Linked DNA regions of Homo sapiens: region 2 is linked to region 1. The links come from fine-mapping of genetic effects on gene expression. Tissue or cell type: monocytes after interferon gamma. Region 1 holds a variant in brackets; the other region holds the start of a gene. All regions are shown on one strand. Distances are between the middles of the regions.

Region 1 (8,105 bases):
TAGTGATGACAATAACAACAGCAGACATTGATTGAACATTTACTACAATCAACTTTATGATCTACAGAATACTTCTTACAGCTTAATACTTTTGTTAGGAAAATGACCCATGGGATATACAACACATACCTTCATTATCCTGTTGGGGTTGCTATGCTCTGCCACTAGGGGGTAGTATCATTGCTACTGTCTTATATCCACCAAATGCAAATTCTGTTTGCACTTTTAAAATTCTTTCTAGGTCCATTTTTTTCCCATTTAAAATGAATATACATGATCTTCCAATTAGTTTATACAGTAGTTTGAATAATTTAAGAAATGAACCTGGTGTCTCATAAATGCTTCAAAAGAAGTATAGGGACAATTTTCTTTTCTCTCTCTTGACTCCATTATTTTATGTCTTCATTAATTATTCTACTTGTAATAGTCTTACTTGTTACAAAAAGTGTCTACTATCAGTAATAAATTATTAGTACATACTTTCTGTGCTTTGCACTTGCCTATAGCGCACTGTCTTTTAACCATTTATATGAGCGGGGACATTTATATGTTCAGATACTTTGGGAGGGAGGGGAAATGCATCTCATATATTGGGGGAACATGGCATAAGACACGCACTCTGACCTCAAGAACCTTACAGTTTGATTGTGGAGATGAAATGTAGACTCATCAGATTTAAAGCACCAATGTTAAAATCTCCCAGCACTGTGGAGAATTGATCAATTTCTCCTTGTAATTCAGCTAAATTTTTTGCTTCATATAGATTGAGGCAATGTTCTTTGGTTCTTTCAATCTCATGATTGTTATATCTTCTTGGTGAATTGGTCCTTTTTTTTCCTCATATACTAATGACTCTTCTTCTAATAAGAATTTTTCCCCTTATTTTTTTTTTTTTTTTCTAATCTTAGTCTTTAAAAACTTTCTTTGGATTAGATTTGACTCATACATGTTTTTCCAATCATTTCTTTTCAACTTATTTGTGTCATTGTATTTCATACTTGTCTCTTATAAACAGCATATAACTAAATTATTATAAATTTAAGAGGCCAAGTGTGGTGGCTCACACCTGTAATCCTAGCACTTCTGGAGTCCAAGGCAGGGGGATTGGTTGAAGCCAGGAAATAGGAAAGCCTGAGGAGGGGGAGACAGATGGAGGAAAGCTAGCATGGCTAGCCTGGGCAATATAGTAAGATCTCATTTCTACGAAAAAAAAAAAAAAAGAACATTTAAAAAATTAACCAGCCACTGGCGCTTGTGCCTGTGGTCCCAACTACTTGTGAAGCTGAGGTGGGAGGATCACTTGAGCCCAAGAGTTGAAGGCTGCAGCAAGCTATGATTGTACCACTTGCACTGCAGCCCAGGTGACAGAGCAAGACCCTGCCTCTAAAAGAAAAAGTTAAGAATATCTATTCTTAATTGACTAGCTTGGTCCATTCATGATTTAAGCCATAATTTCTTTGGACTTTTTATTCAACAACTTTTCTTGGCTTTTTTTTTTTTTTCCTCCTTCACTGGCTTCCCTTAGATAGACTGAATTTTCTTTATGCCCCACCCCCCTCATACTGCTTTGAAAGTTATATATCTACTTCTTACTTTTTAGTGGCCATTCAATTTTTAACACATATACTTAGAGTTGAAATTCAATACTTCTTCCCTTCTCTCAAATAATACAAGAAACTTTGTACCCAAAGGTCTCTCTCACCATCTTGGATATTTTTCCCCTAGGATTTTGATTCTTCCTTGGTTAAAACTTTGTCATCTTTACTATTTTTCAGTGAGTATTTTTTTTAGATTTGCCTCACAATTTCTTGCCTCACTATTGCTCCTTGCAATGCTATTCCTTCATTCTGGGTTCAATTGTCTTCCTCCTACAATACATCCTTTAGCGGTTCTTTCAGCAAAGGTGGTGAACAGTAATGTCTCACAATCTTTATCTGATTGTAATATCTTTACCTTGTCAATCTACCTGAGTGATAATTTTGCTGACTTATTTTCTCCTCAGCACTTTGAAGGCATTATTCCTTTGTCTTCTGGTCTCTCTTTTTAAAAAAAATCTTCATTGGATTATGGCATTCATATAGAAAAAGCACACCCATCATGGATACACGTAATGAGCACATGTAATCAACAAGGAAATGTAATCAGAACTAGGTCAAGAAACTAAACATGGCCAGCACCCTAGAAGCTCCCTCATGGCCCCTGCCAGCCGCTAGTCCCCCAGCAGTTAAACACTATCCAGATTTCTACCAGCACTGATTACTCTTGTTTTAGTTTTTAATTTTGGTGATGACAAATCTGCCAGCCAGGCACGGTGGCTCACACCTGTAATCCCAGCACTTTGGGAGGCTGAGGCAGGCAGATTACCTGAGGTCGGGAGTTCAAGACCAGCCTGACCAACATGGTGAAACCCCGTCTCTACTAAAAATACAAAATTAGCTGGGTGTGGTGACGGGCACCTGTAATCCCAGCTACTTGGGAGGCTGAGGCAGGACAATCGCTTGAACCTGGGAGGCAGAGGTTGCAGTGAGCCGAGATTGCGCCATTGCACTCTAACCTGGGCAACAAAACTGAGACTCCGTCTCAAAAAAAAAAAAAAAAAAAAAAGAAAAAAAGAAAAATCTGTCACCAACCTAATCTTTATAGTTCATCTGTCTTTGTTTAAGATTTTATTTTTGAAGATCTGCAGTTTCATTAGGATGTATATAGCTGTGGATTTTTCTTTGCCCTGCTTTACTTTCTGTGTTTCCTAAATCTACGGATCTGTTTTCATAAATTCTGGAAAATCTCACCCATGATCTCACTGAATATTGCTTCTCTTTCATCCTTTTTACTCCTTCCTTTTGGAACTCCTAAGAAACGTATATTGAATCTTTTTATTCTATTCTGCATAACTTTTAGCTTTTATATTTCCTATCAATTTTTCTATGCTGCATTGTGGTTAATTCCCTGATTTATCTTTCCTTTCATCGATTCTCTTCTGTTGTATCTGTTATGTTATGGATTGAATTGTGTCCTCCAAAAATGTTACATTTAAGTCCTAATCTTAGTATCTCAGAATGTGGCCTTATTTGGAGATAGGATTGTTGCAGAGGTAATCAAATTAAAATGAGGTCGTTAAGGTGGCCCTAATCTACTATGACTTGTGTCCTTATAAAAAGGGATAATTTGGACACAGAGGCATGCCCAGAGGGAGGACTATGTGAAGAGGCATAGGGAGAATGCCATGTGAAGATTGGAGCTTTGCTGCAACAAGCCAAGGAACTCCGGGGGCTAGAAGAAGCTGCAAGAGACAAGGAAGGAACTTCTCCTTTCAAGTTTCAGAGGGAGGGAGCAAGACCCTGCTAACATCTTGATTTTGGGTTTAAAAAAGCGTCTAAAAGTACATTTCTGGCAATACATTTCTGTTGTTCTAAGCCACCCAATTTGTGGCACTTTGTCATGGCAGCCCTAAGAAACTAATACATTATTTATTTAGTTTTAAATTCACTGTGTTTTATCAATTTCCAAAAGTATGACATGATTTGTTTCCAAATGTATTTTTTATTATAGGGTGTCTTGTTCTTGTATCGTGGCTTCAAATCTTTCTTTAATATCTTTAGTTATTTTATTTTTAATTTTTCGGAGATAGGACCTTGGTCTTTCACCCGGGCTGGAGTGTAGTGGTTCAGTCGCAGCCCACTGCAGCCTCAAC[C/A]TCCCAGGCTCAAGTTATCCTCCCACCTCATCCTCCCGAGTAGCTGGGACTACAGTCATGTGTCACCACACCAGACTAATTTTTAAAATTTTTTGTAGAGACAGGATCTCACTATTCTGACCACGCTGGTCTCAAACTCCTAGACTCAAGTGATCCTCCCACCTTGGCCTCCCAGAGTGCTGCGATTACAGGTGTGAGCCACCATGCCTGGCCTACTTATTTTAAATATACTTATTTTTATTGCTGGTTTCAGATTGTTCTATTATCTTAAGTTATTAGTGTATTACCTTCCTGTTTGTTATATCTGCTTACTCTTTCTTATAGAGAATTATTTTCTTTTGTGATTTGTAATTTTTTTCTTTTAAGTATTAGCTTAGCAGGAGTTTTCTCCATCTTGGGGATGTTCCATGCTCCTGGGGTTGTGAAAATGTTTCTACAGAGTAGTTTTACATTTCTTATGATGGGCATCTCAGTGGTTTTATTGGTATGCATCCAGTTTTTACTTTAATTTCTTCACTGAGATTTCCTTACAGGTGGATAATGTGAGTTTAGACCCTACACCTGCATGGTCAAATAGACTTGGGGGTTTGATTTCCCATAACTGACTTTCTTTACCACTTGGATCTGGGAAAAGACAAAGTTCCTTTCTCTTCCCTTTTTGCTGTGCCTTCTAGGATCTTGATTTCATAGCCGGTTGTCAGTTCTAATTCCCCACCTTGCGTAGGCCTTCTCCACCTCTCCTGTTGCTGAATGGGTGTTTCAACCCCAGCCCCTGGTCTTTATGGCCCAAATCTAGACCCACACCTTGCTGAGTCCCCAGAGCGTGAGTTCACAGATGACACCATGGCAGCTCTGGCTGTTGTTCCTCCTCATTTCTTGTACCTGGGAATTTCTATTTTATTCTCTCTTTCTCATTTTTTCTTACAAGTTTGGTTCTGTTTCAGAAACTTTTTGCTACATTTCCCCCTGTATTTCTCTGCGCTTTTAGAAGTAAATTGAAGCTGTGTTTGTGCAGTCTGCCATTTCACTGGAGCAGAAAGCCAGGACAAATGACTGACATTGAATGTTTGTGCAGAATGGGCAGTACAAGCTGATAGAGGTTTTCAGGAGGGAGAAATTCACTGAGGAATGGGAACAGCTGAGCACTGAGGAATGCTAGGTAGAGTTCAGGTAAGGGAAGGGTTAAATGTTTTAAAAATATTTTAACATTTCAACTAGATTTGGGGTTCTATATAAAGACAAGGCCATGCATCTAATGTCCAGCATGATCATATGCACATTAAACATTCTTATATTCTGCAGATTGACAACTTTTCTCCTCTGTCTGTTCTTCCCTATGCCTTTGCCTTTGTAGAAACAAAACTGTGCTCTGCGAACCACAGGAAGCCAGGTTTTTGTAGGAATCACCACATGGCTTCAAAACCTTACCGTGCTGACTTAGTCCTCAAGGCAGTGGATGGCTATGAATAAAGAAATTAGATGGTGTTCCTAGAGTGCTTAAACCTGTAGTGAATGGAGAAAGAAGGCTCAAGTCAGAATTTTGGTTTTTAATTTTTAATTTCATCAACTGTGACTTCGTTGTCTGAAAAGACTGTGGGTAGCAAATCTCTCGCTCTACTTTGGAAATGCCCTCAACACCTACTAAAGTGGAGATATCTACTTAATCTAACTCCTAGAATTAGCTTAGGTAGATCAGATCACAATCTAATCTTTGTAACTATAGGGTAGTTACAAAGATTAAATGAGAAAGCAGAAGTGAACATGCTTTAGAATAAAAATATGTTTTATAGGACAGGCAGCAGACTCTAGAGGCTCAGAGCACAGACGCCAGAGGCGCACTGAGTTTGAAGCTCCAGCTCTGCCTCTGACAAGCTGTTATAATTTAAATCTTTGTCTAGTTTCCTCATACGTAAAATGTGGTTAATAACAGATGTACCTCTTAGGGTTGTTGTGGGAGTGTAATGAGATAATATTGCCTGATATGTAGTAAGTTCTCAATGAGTAGTAGTTTTAATTACATTCCTTGATATTGTCATCTGTATAAGAGGATTAATCTTAGGTCCAGGAACCCCAAGCAAGGCTAGAAATAAGATTGCAGTGTTTGAGAACTCTCTGAAACTGTCCCCCAAATTTTGTGTGTATGTGCATTTGTAGTGGAGTGGTGCATTTTTCTTGAGCAAAAGTCCATTTTTACCATCAGATTCTGAAAAAGATATGCCACCCAAAAAGTGTTCAGAAGCACTGATGTTTGAATCTAGGACTTTGTTTCAATCTAAGGACTATAGAGCTGCATAATCTTATGCATTCCAGATAGGCTCTATGGCCCCTGGTTAGTTCAATAAATATTTATTTTTATTATTATTTTTATTATACTTTAAGTTCGAGGGTACATGTGTACAATGTGCAGGTTTGTTACATATGTAAACATGTGCCCTGTTGGTGTGTTGTACCCATTAACTCATCATTTACATTAGGTATTTCTCCTATTGGTATCCCTCCCCCCTACCCCTACCCCACAACAGGCCCCAGTGTGTGATGTTCCCCTTCCTGTGTCCAAGTGTTCTCGTTGTTCAATTCCCACCTATGAGTGAGAATATGCGGTGTTTGGTTTTTTGTCGCTGTGATAGTTTGCTGAGAATGATGGTTTCCAGCTTTATCCATGTCCCTGCAAAGGACATGAACTCATCCTTTTTTATGGCTGCATAGTATTCCATGGTGTATATGTGCCACATTTTCTTGATCCAGTCTATCACTGACGGACGTTTGGGTTGGTTCCAAGTCTTTGCTATTGTGAATAGTGCCACAATAAACATATGTGTGCATGTGTCTTTATAGCGGCATGATTTATAATCCTTTGGGTATATACCCAGTAATGGGATGGCTGGGTCAAACGGTATTTCTAGTTCTAGATCCTTAAGGAACCGCCACACTGTCTTCCACAGTGGTTGAACTAGGTTACAGTCCCACCAACGGTGTAAAAGTGTTCCTGTTCCTCCACATCCTCTCCAGCATCTGTTGTTTCCTGACTTTTTAATGATCGCCATTCTAACTGCTGTGAGGTGGTATCTCATTGTGGTTTTGATTTGCATTTCTCTGATGGCCAGTGATGATGAGCATTTTTTCATGTGTCTTTTGGCTGCATAAATGTCTTCTTTTGAGAAGTGTCTGTTCATATCCTTTGCCCACTTTTTGATGGGGTTTTTTTCTTGTAAATTTGTTTGAGTTCATTGTAGATTCTGGATATTAGCCCTTTGTCAGATAAGTAGATTGCAAACGTTCAATAAATGTTGATGAAGAGCTGGGCCCTGGTCCGTGGTGGTCACTCAGCCATGCAGGAGCAACACCTTTGCCCAGGTAACTCTGTCTGTACCTAGAAGGGAAATGGTAACCTCTTGAGGGACTCAAATGAGAATTCAGAAAATCACTCTGATGTTTTTACCATCACTGTCATATCTTCCTTTATGGGCAATTTTACTGAAAGCCAAGTCAACTTTATCACTAAGGTGGTCCATGAAAGTATGGAAGGTTTACTTCAAGCTTTTCTTTGGGGGAAGTGTAAAAATTTCCCCTTTCCCATGAAGTGACATGAGAGCCTTTTGTTATTTCCAGTGAAAACGGAAGGTCAGGAGATTGGGAGACCTTGGTGAAGTATCCTAACATACATGATGGAGAACTCCTCAAACTTCACGAATTTTAAGAACCATTAGATTGTTTTCTTCTGTTCTTTGAACTTGCATTTGCATTGACTCAGCTCAGGCATTTAAACAGATTTAGAAAGACTTCCAAACATGTAAATGTCAAACTTTATTTCTTTTTAATGATGTGTGTCATCTAAATAGTGATGCCATCAATAGGGAATGTTGTATTTTTGTTATTTTCTTACCTTTTGCTCTCAGATGCCTTTTAACATATGTAAAAATATTTATATAGTGTTTCAAGTCTGCAGCATTCAGTACAGAAATGCTCTTTTCAGTTCTCCCTTTTGGTAATATCATATTTAACTCAAAAGAAGTCATAGGCATATTGGGGGCAGATAGTTGGTACAAATCTGACAAAAAGCTAATGAGCTCTCCTGTGATTATCAGGGAGGACGATGACTCATTAAATCTCATTTCCTGGGCAAGTCCACATAGGGAGAAGAAATTAACTGAAATAAAGGCCTGAGAACCTAATGCAGTCAGATTTATGGGCATCTGTATAAGCAGCCACATGATAATCAGAGCAAATAGTAAAATGTTTTAATGAGTTTCTGTGAAATATTTAATGGGTTACTCTATGATTTTTTTTTAAAGTTTGGTTGCTTTCTATTGGAAATTGGCTCCTTAGAAGGGAGGGTCCTGAAACCAAGTGGGGGTGTCTTTTGGTTGAATTCCATCCAAACTCTGGTTTCCCTACATAGACCTTCTTTATGTAT
Region 2 (8,105 bases), 220 kb before region 1:
AGGCCTGGCAGCTTCAGCTTTTGCTTCTAGAAGGCTGGCTGCCATGACTACCGTGGTGTAGCAAAAGAGGAGAACCTGGAGGATGTAAGACCAAGGAAGAGAAAGGCCCAGCCTGCTCTTTGTCATTCTAGCAATCCCAGCTCAGGCGCCAGACGAATGAAGCTGCTTTCAATCTTCCAACCCCAACTAAGCTACCCAACCCAACATGCTGTGGAGGAGCACCAAGCTGTCCCCACTGGGTGTCCTGCTTAAATTGCAGAATTACAAGCAAGTAAATGGTTATGTTTAACCACTAAGTTTATGGGGATAATTTGTTATACTGCAAAGGTAACTGATACGAGGGCCTTGGGTGCATTATTTAATCCCTGGACTGGGCAGGAGATTTTATTTGGACTCCAATTTCTTCATATGTAAAAATCAAGAGCCGGGTATAGTAATTCACGCCTGTAATCCTAGAACTTTGGGAGGCTAAGGTAGGCAGATCACTTGAGCCCAGAAGTTCGGGACCAGCCTGAGCAGCATAGCAAGACTTTGTCGTCTCTACAAATAATAGAAAAATTAGCCAGGCTTGGTGGCGTGGGCCTGTGGTCCCAGCTACTCAAGAGGCTGAGAGGAGAGGATTTCTTGAGCCTCCGCAGTCAAGGCTGCGGTGAGCCCTAATCATGCCATGCGTTCCAGCCTGGGTGACAGTGTGAGATCTCAACTAAAAGATATAAGAATAATAATAGTAAAAATCAAGGATAGGGCAATTTAATCTCTAGGGTCCCTCCCTGCTTTAACATTCTATTATTCAGTGAATAATTGTATTTTATCATTCTATCACATTTAGTGAGTGCCTATCATTGCTAGCTAGGCGCTAGTAGGTGTTGAGTGCAGCAGATGAAGTGTGAACAAAACAAAGTCAAGCACTTAGAGAGCAATATGGACAACAGCAGACAATCTGAGGGCTGATGTAAACATTCTCCTCAACCAGGGGGGAAAATAGAGTCTTCTGACTAATAAAAGATCTTTTATACTGGAAGAACTGGCCTCACATTCCTCAGAAATAGCAAACTATGACTTCTAATAGCTTCATTTTTATGATAACATCAGTGCACATTTCTTTAGCATGATGCAAAGACTGGTGATTGTACAAATCTATAGAAGTTAGAATTTGTGGCATGCCCAAGATGAGCACAAAACTCTTTTGGACATTTGATGGCTTTTATATATTCCACATGATTTGAATTAAATTTTATCTTCTGTAAAGGGCCTATCACAGCACGATTAGGAGTAAGAGACTGTGGAACCTATCTTGAGATACACAGAAGGGAGGCTGAATCGTGCCCAATATTACTGTCTGCCTGTGTTCCCCTAACCTTCCAAAATGTTCACACAAAGTAAGCAGATAAACATTGTTTCTGACTTTGAAGCTTTCAGGCTAAATTGAAGAGCTATAAATGTAAATCAGCAATTGTACCCAAAGTGTTGCTTGATTTTCTATTTGGCTCTGTGGTAGGGCCCATCGCGTATAATTCCTCGTGAAAGCGCTGGGTAACAGAAAGCTTTGGGCGGGTTAAAAGACCTCAGCTGTGGCCGACTTTGCCTGTGTCACTCTATGCGAGTGGGCAGAGCACTGAATGTCTGTTGGCCTTGCTATCATTCTCTGATTCCCAGGAGTGAATTGACGCTCAAATGGAAAGTAAAAATGGATGTTAAGATAAATGGGAGATTGAAACACAGAATCATCAAAACCAGGAAAAAGAGCTGCAGGAAGTAGTGTGCAAGGAGGGGTTTAAAAAACGCAGCCAGAGATCCTCGGGATTCTCAGCGTCGCTTTCCTGTTAGTTTGAGGTTCGAATACAGTATTTGCGTCGTCTCACATACAACAAATAGGTGTCTGCCTGCACGTTGCCAACGTGACTCTTGGAAGAAAAGCGAGAAGCAGCAAAACCGAGCAAGGGAGTTGGCTAAACGGCTGCAAGAAACACACACACACACACACACACACACACACACACGGAAGAAAAGCGAGAAACAGCAAAACCGAGCAAGAGAGTTGGCTAAACGGCTGCAAGAAACACACACACACACACACACACACGGAAGAAAAGTGAGAAACAGCAAAACCGAGCAAGGGAGTTGGCTAACTGGCTGCAAGAAACTCTCTATCTCACTCTCTCTCTCTCTCTCTGTGCTGCAAGAAACTCTCTCTCTCTCTCTCTCTCTCTCTCTCTCGGAAGAAAAGCGAGTAACAGCAACACCGAGCAAGGGAGTTGGCTAAACGGCTGCAAGAAACACACACACACACACACACACACCACACACGCACACACACACCCCAGCAGTCATGAAAGAAGGAGAGGAAAGTTCTTTGTTGAAACTCCGGGTTCGAAACACACACACACACACACACACACACACACACACACACACACACACACACACGAAACTCCGGGTTCAAAGCTATGGGCCCCACCCCGCTCAGGACTGCCTGCTACGAGGCCGCGCAGAGATGCCCCAGGCGCGGAGAGAAGCGGAGCACAGCCGTGCTAGGGACAGGGGCGCCACCCTGGGCGGGACTGAGGTGGGATCCTGGCTCCCGGCTTTGGCCTCCCAGCCCAGGCTCGGGGCTTCCTGGCCCTCGGAGGCCGGGGCGGGCCAGGCTTTGCAGCACAGGGCGAATCTCCCTCCCTCCCCGGGCGCCCCCCGGGAACTGGCGGCCAGAGGTTAAGCTGACATGTTTGCAGACGGTAATGGGGCGCTGGATGCCAACAGCCCCAGCTCAGGGGAGTCCAGATTTATGTTTCTTGGAACAATTCTTTCCTCCATTGCATTAACGCCAAAAAAAAAAAAAAAAAAAAAAAAACACTTAATCAAGCCCAGAGTCTACTACTAAAGTCTTGTTAATTTATTAACCCAAGCCGAGGCTGAGAGCTCGACGTGGCACTTAAGAAGTAAAATGAGGAAAGGAGGAAGAAACGGGGTCCCTGTGGGCCTCGGGGCAGCCTCGGCCGGGCTTTCTCGGAGGGCAGGGCCAGGGGCGCTGGGGCCGCTCCCGCGTGGCGCGGCTCGGGAGCGTTCCAGGGCGCGGTCCCTGCGGGCCGGCGGGCCGGGGTGAGTCACCCCTGACTTGGGGTGGGAGCGGGCCGTGTAAGGGGGAGGCGGGGCGGGGCGGGGCGGGCCTCGCCTCGCCTAGGGAGGATGTGGCGGGTATAAAAGCCCCACCCAGGCCAGCCGGCTCTGCTCAGCATTTGGGGACGCTCTCAGCTCTCGGCGCACGGCCCAGGTAAGCGGGGCGCGCCCTGCCCGCCCGCGATGGGCCGCCAGCTAGCGGGGTGTGGAGACGCTGGGAAGAAGGGTACGGCCTGGCAGGGAGGCCCCGGCAACTGGCCCCGGAGGCCGTCGGGGGCAGGGGGCTGAAGGGACGGCCGGCACTGGAGAGTCTTTGGGGAGGGGGCTCAGGGACAAGGTGTTTGGGGCAGGGGTGAGGGGCCACCGGCCCTCGGGCCGGGAGGGTGCAGGGCAGAGGTGGTGGGGGGTCGGGCTTCTCTAAGAAGCCCTAGCGGGAGCGGGGCGAGGCGGCGTGGGGAGAGGGGCGGAGGGAGGCCCCGCATTCCAGACGCGCCAGGCGCCGCCGAGGCAGGGCGTGGCCGCCCAGGGAGCCGCAGGTCCCCGGCGCAGCAGTAGCAAGTGGGCTTTCCACTGCCCTCTAGAAAGTGCCCCCCATCTGCTCTAAGTTACTGTACTCGAAACAAACGCGCGCTTGTGGAGTTGAACCGACCAGCAGGAGGGAAGTAGCGGGGGAAGACGAGAGGGGGGAGTGTGAGTAGGCACCCCTCAGCCCCCCATAAAAGAAGACATTAAAACGTCAGTTATTCCCCTTGCTCTAGGTTATCTTGTAGCATAGCAACTTCGGATTTCACTCTACCCGGAGAGTTTCCCGCTTGGTTGAACACATTGGCCTCAGGAAGGTAGTGTCCCCCATGATTCTGTGGGGAGGGTTGTCCTGTTACTCGCCATGATGTGACAATGAGTCAGGAACTGAGAGTAGAGAGAAGGGCGTGGCCCCGGGGCCTCTCCCTTCTGGCCGCTCTGTGCAGCTGGCCCCACTGCTGGTGTGGAGGGCTTGGGTTCCATCAGCCGGCTGTTGAGAAGAAGGAGGGGAACACAGATAAGTTTCCTCATCTGGGAAGGTGGCTTAAGGATGCCTATTCTTACCACCACCCAGAGTTATTGGAGATTTCAAAAAACACAGTCATTAGGTAATAAATGTGTAAAGTACACAAAAAACAAAGTGCTGTGCAAATGCAAAGTGTCATTTTTGTAGTAAGATTGCCGTTTTAAAGCTGTGGGTGTTCTGAGTGCGTGTGTAAAAGAGCAGTGGCCTCATGGGTGCACGCTGGGCCATTACCAAGAACCTTAAGTTGTTGGTGTGCAAAGGCCTGGGCCCCAGACTGTACTGATGGATTCTGTTCACACGTGTGTGCTACTGTGCCTGTCTGGAACTTGGTGACTTGGAATGCAGAATGCACTTTCCCACTGAAACAGTGTTGCAGAAGGTGCTGACGTTCCCAGGCTAGCCCTGAAAGACCTTTTTAACATGCACTGCCTGATTATGGGATTGGTGGTGGGGAGGTGGAGGGTAGTGAGGGGCAATGTGTGTGTAGGAAGACTAAATCACTGAAATATTTTTCTGGAACTTTTTTTAGCTTTAAGGTTGACACTGAGTAAATTATTTTAATTGGAAAATTATGTCTTTGCCCCTGTTCCACTTTCTTTTTTCCACCTTCCACCTCCTTAGAGACGCTCTTCTGGCTCTTCCGTGACGCATTACAACAGCCATCCAGGCCGGTCCAGTTACGCTGCATTCCTTCCTCCTTCCCATTTCGGCGGACCTGCATCCAGCTAGAGACTAGCAGATTGAATCGATATTCATTAAGTTAGGAATGGTTGGTGGTCCTAAGAGCCTCAGCAACCGAGAGGAGTCTTGTTATTTAAAAAACAACGATACTGGGCGTGGTCGTGGGCCTGTAGTCCCAGCTGCTCAAGCTAGTGGATCTCTTGAGTCCAAGGCCAATGTGAGCAACATAGCAAGACCCAGTCTCAAAAAATAAATACATAATAATAATAAAAAACCCTCGTTCACCTAAACAGATCTATAATTTATAGAATGTAAAGCAGCAATATTCAGGCAATATTAAGGAAGATTTTTGGTAAGACTGGGGCAGCAGAGGTGCCCTTGATGGGCAAGGGCCAGGAGTGTTAACACAGTCCTGCTTAGTAATTTCTTCCCTTCTTCCAAGTCTGTCGATTATCTAAAGGTCAAGGGTTTGTCCAAAAATGTCCCTTGCATCTGCAGTGGAAGGATGTGACATGTATGTGCATTTTTACAATTGGAGGTTTGTGATTTGGAGACCGTTTAGATTTTGTAATTTCCCGCAGTGCCAACTAGACTGCCTGTGGTAAATGCCCAGGAAATATTGCTGACTCACTGACTTTGATTAGGAGCTCAGTCTTGCACTGGAGTCTCAATATTTAGCATCTTGTGTCTTTGAGCTATTAAACTATGGTATTGATTGACATTAGGCTCGCAGTCATGGCCGTTAGTTTCCTGGCTAATTTCTGATTTAAGTAGTTTTCCTGGCAAAGTAGATGTGCTTCTATAATTGCTATTGATTTTGAGGGCTGTAGGCTCTTCCTACACCACTGGGCCTAGAATCTGGCACTAATGCATTGTCTGGAGCCTTTGTTCTCACCCTTCGCTTGTGCAGAGCCTGGAGCCTGCGGAGACATTTTTCATTAAAGGAGAGCGGGATTGTCACAAAAGGAGTCTCAGGCTCTAGTGGGCTGCTTTAAACAACCATTTATTCCACAAAATATTAATTACCTACTGTGTTCCACTCATAGTTATGAGCACTAGGGATACAGCAGTGAACAAAACAGACCCCCGCCAAAAATAAAATCCCTGCTCTTTAGACCTTAAATCTGGCGGAGAGAGAAGGAAAAGAGACAAAATAAGTGAATTGTTGGATTTTAAACTTTATATTTTCCCAAATTAATACTAGTTTCTAAACTTGGTGGGAGTTCATTTCCCCTTTAATCCAGCTGTTCCACAGACCTAAACTTCACATTTTACCTACCTCGGGGAAGTTTTGCTTAAAATTATGGTGTCTTAAGCTGCCTTCCAGATTCAATTGTGAGAATTAAATAGAAATGGAATGTTCCTCTTTTTTTTCACATGAGAATCCTCTTCACTTGCCCTGGTGCCACACCCTATTCTAGTTGTAGGCCACACCAGAGGAAATTCCAGTCCTTCAAAAAAATTCTTTCCACCCATTCACTGCCTGGTATCTTTTTTCTTCTGCTGTTGCCAGAGGCAGTCCTCATCTACTTTCTCCAGGGACAGGTCAGCAGTAGGGGTCAGGAGATGCCCATATTTGTCCTTCTGGGTGGTTCTACCAGATGACTTCCAAATCTCCCTTCTAGGGTACACCCTGAAGCTGTTTTTTTTTTTCTTTTTTTTTTCTTTTGAGATGGAGCCTGGCTCTGTCACCCAGCCTGGAGTGTAGTCGCACGATCTCTCCTCACTGTAGCCTCCGCCTCCCAGGTTCAAGTGATTCTCCAGCCTCACCCTCCCGAGTAGCTGGGATTACAGGTGCCTACCACCATGCCGGGCTAATCTTTGTATTTTTAGTAGAGACAGGGTTTCATCATGTTGGCCAGGCTGGTCTGGAACTGTTGAGCTCAAGTGATCCGCCTGTCTCGGCTTCCCAAACTGCTGGGATTACAGGCGTGAGCCACTATGCCTGGCCCACCCTGAAGCTTTTAATCCAGCTGAGCTCAACTGGACAGGTCGGTAGCACCCAAGTGGCCTGAGTTTTACCCCAGGTGTGGTGTAGAAATTTCTTATTCTAGGGAGTGACTGTGTTATGGAGCCCTTTGTCCATGTCCTTTGTCTCCCTGCCACACCCAGGCTATACACTCACAGCTCAGAGGAAATCAGAGTCCTAAGGCCACTCGTACATCCTGCCTCTTTGCTGCCTTCTTGCTAGGAGTTGTAGGTTACGTTCCCATGTGGTCCTATGGACAGAGCTAGGGTCCAAGTATCCCTGACAGCACAGAGGTGGGGGGCATGGCTATATGTTGATAAGAGGCTGCCCTGAAGCGACCTGCTGGGCTTTGCTAAGATTTGCAGAAGTTGGTGATTTAAGCCTCCAACTCTGAATGCACGGAACTGGAACTGCATTCGAAATGTCCAGTCTGAGGGAGAGAGAAAATTGAGGAAGGAGAGTGTGTTGGAAAAGAAGAAAAAAAGACTTTCTAATATAGAAAGACCCAGTGTGTGTAAACCATCCCAAGATGAAATTGAATGCCTATCGTGTGCCAGGCACTGTGCTCAGACCTATGAGGAAACAGGAGGGAGTTAAGTTGGAAACCCTGTGGGCGGATAATACGGAAGACAGACTTTACACATGTAACTCTAATGTTGCACAGACACACAAAAAGCTGCAGAAGCACAGGGCAAGGAGGGGTGTGTGAGAAAGGCGGCATTTATGATTTCCTGTATCCTAAAGACTCATTCAGATGTCAGCTAATTAAGATTGAGGTTCCTGGTGGAGGGAACTTAGAAAGTGCTGAGCGTGTTTGGAGAAGAGTTAACAGTCCAGTTAACTCTTCTGTGCAGGATGCGTGTATGCATGTGTGTGTGTATAGAAGATATTTAAGGAAAGGTAGGTAAGTCCACAGTGTGGAAGGTCTTGAATGCTGACATTAGACTTTTTTCTGTAGGCGGCCAGGCCCTGTTGAAAATACAATATGTGGGCCATAAAACACTGAAATTGAGTTGCAGACTTGAAGGCCTGGATTTCCCAACCCTGAAAGTGCTTCATGCCAAGTGACATCATTCTTCCTGCCGGTCTCTTTCCACCCACTCCAACCCCAGATCAGGATACCAGCAGAGAGAGGCTGTGAGAGCATGAAGCTGCAACAAGTCAGTAGGGAGCAAACAAATATTGATTCAGATCAGGCCACAGAAGAGACAAGCTGGAGCAAGTGCTGTGTGTCCCTCCTGCTCAGTTTGATCGAGGTCACTGGGCCGAATTCCAGGAATTCTGGGGAATGAG

Direction of the effects. Alleles are on the strand shown, and positions count from the first base shown. SD is a standard deviation of normalised expression in the study named.
For the expression in monocytes after interferon gamma of the gene that starts at base 3,225 in region 2, allele A in region 1 goes with a lower level than allele C (large effect, 1.2 SD a copy in Fairfax 2014).

What was found. PIP is the estimated chance that this variant, and not a neighbour inherited with it, causes the effect.
Region 2: it holds the start of ANXA2, and the variant in region 1 is fine-mapped to the expression of ANXA2 in monocytes after interferon gamma (Fairfax 2014, PIP 0.95).

The regions. Positions count from the first base shown.
Region 1 is chr15:60,172,046-60,180,150 of GRCh38, reverse strand. All of the region lies in intron 1 of LOC105370839 (a long non-coding RNA gene), which reads right to left. Among named protein-coding and RNA genes, the nearest start is that of FOXB1, 170 kb to the right of the region's middle. The variant C/A (reference allele first, on the strand shown) is at 3,692.
Region 2 is chr15:60,393,106-60,401,210 of GRCh38, reverse strand. It overlaps ANXA2 (annexin A2), which reads left to right and starts at 3,225. Exons shown (of 13, transcript NM_004039.3): 1 at 3,225-3,268. RefSeq lists silencers at 2,493-2,802, 2,923-3,462, 3,533-3,672 and enhancers at 3,833-4,022, 4,043-4,092, 4,153-4,202, 3,696-4,287, 4,288-4,879 and 1 more.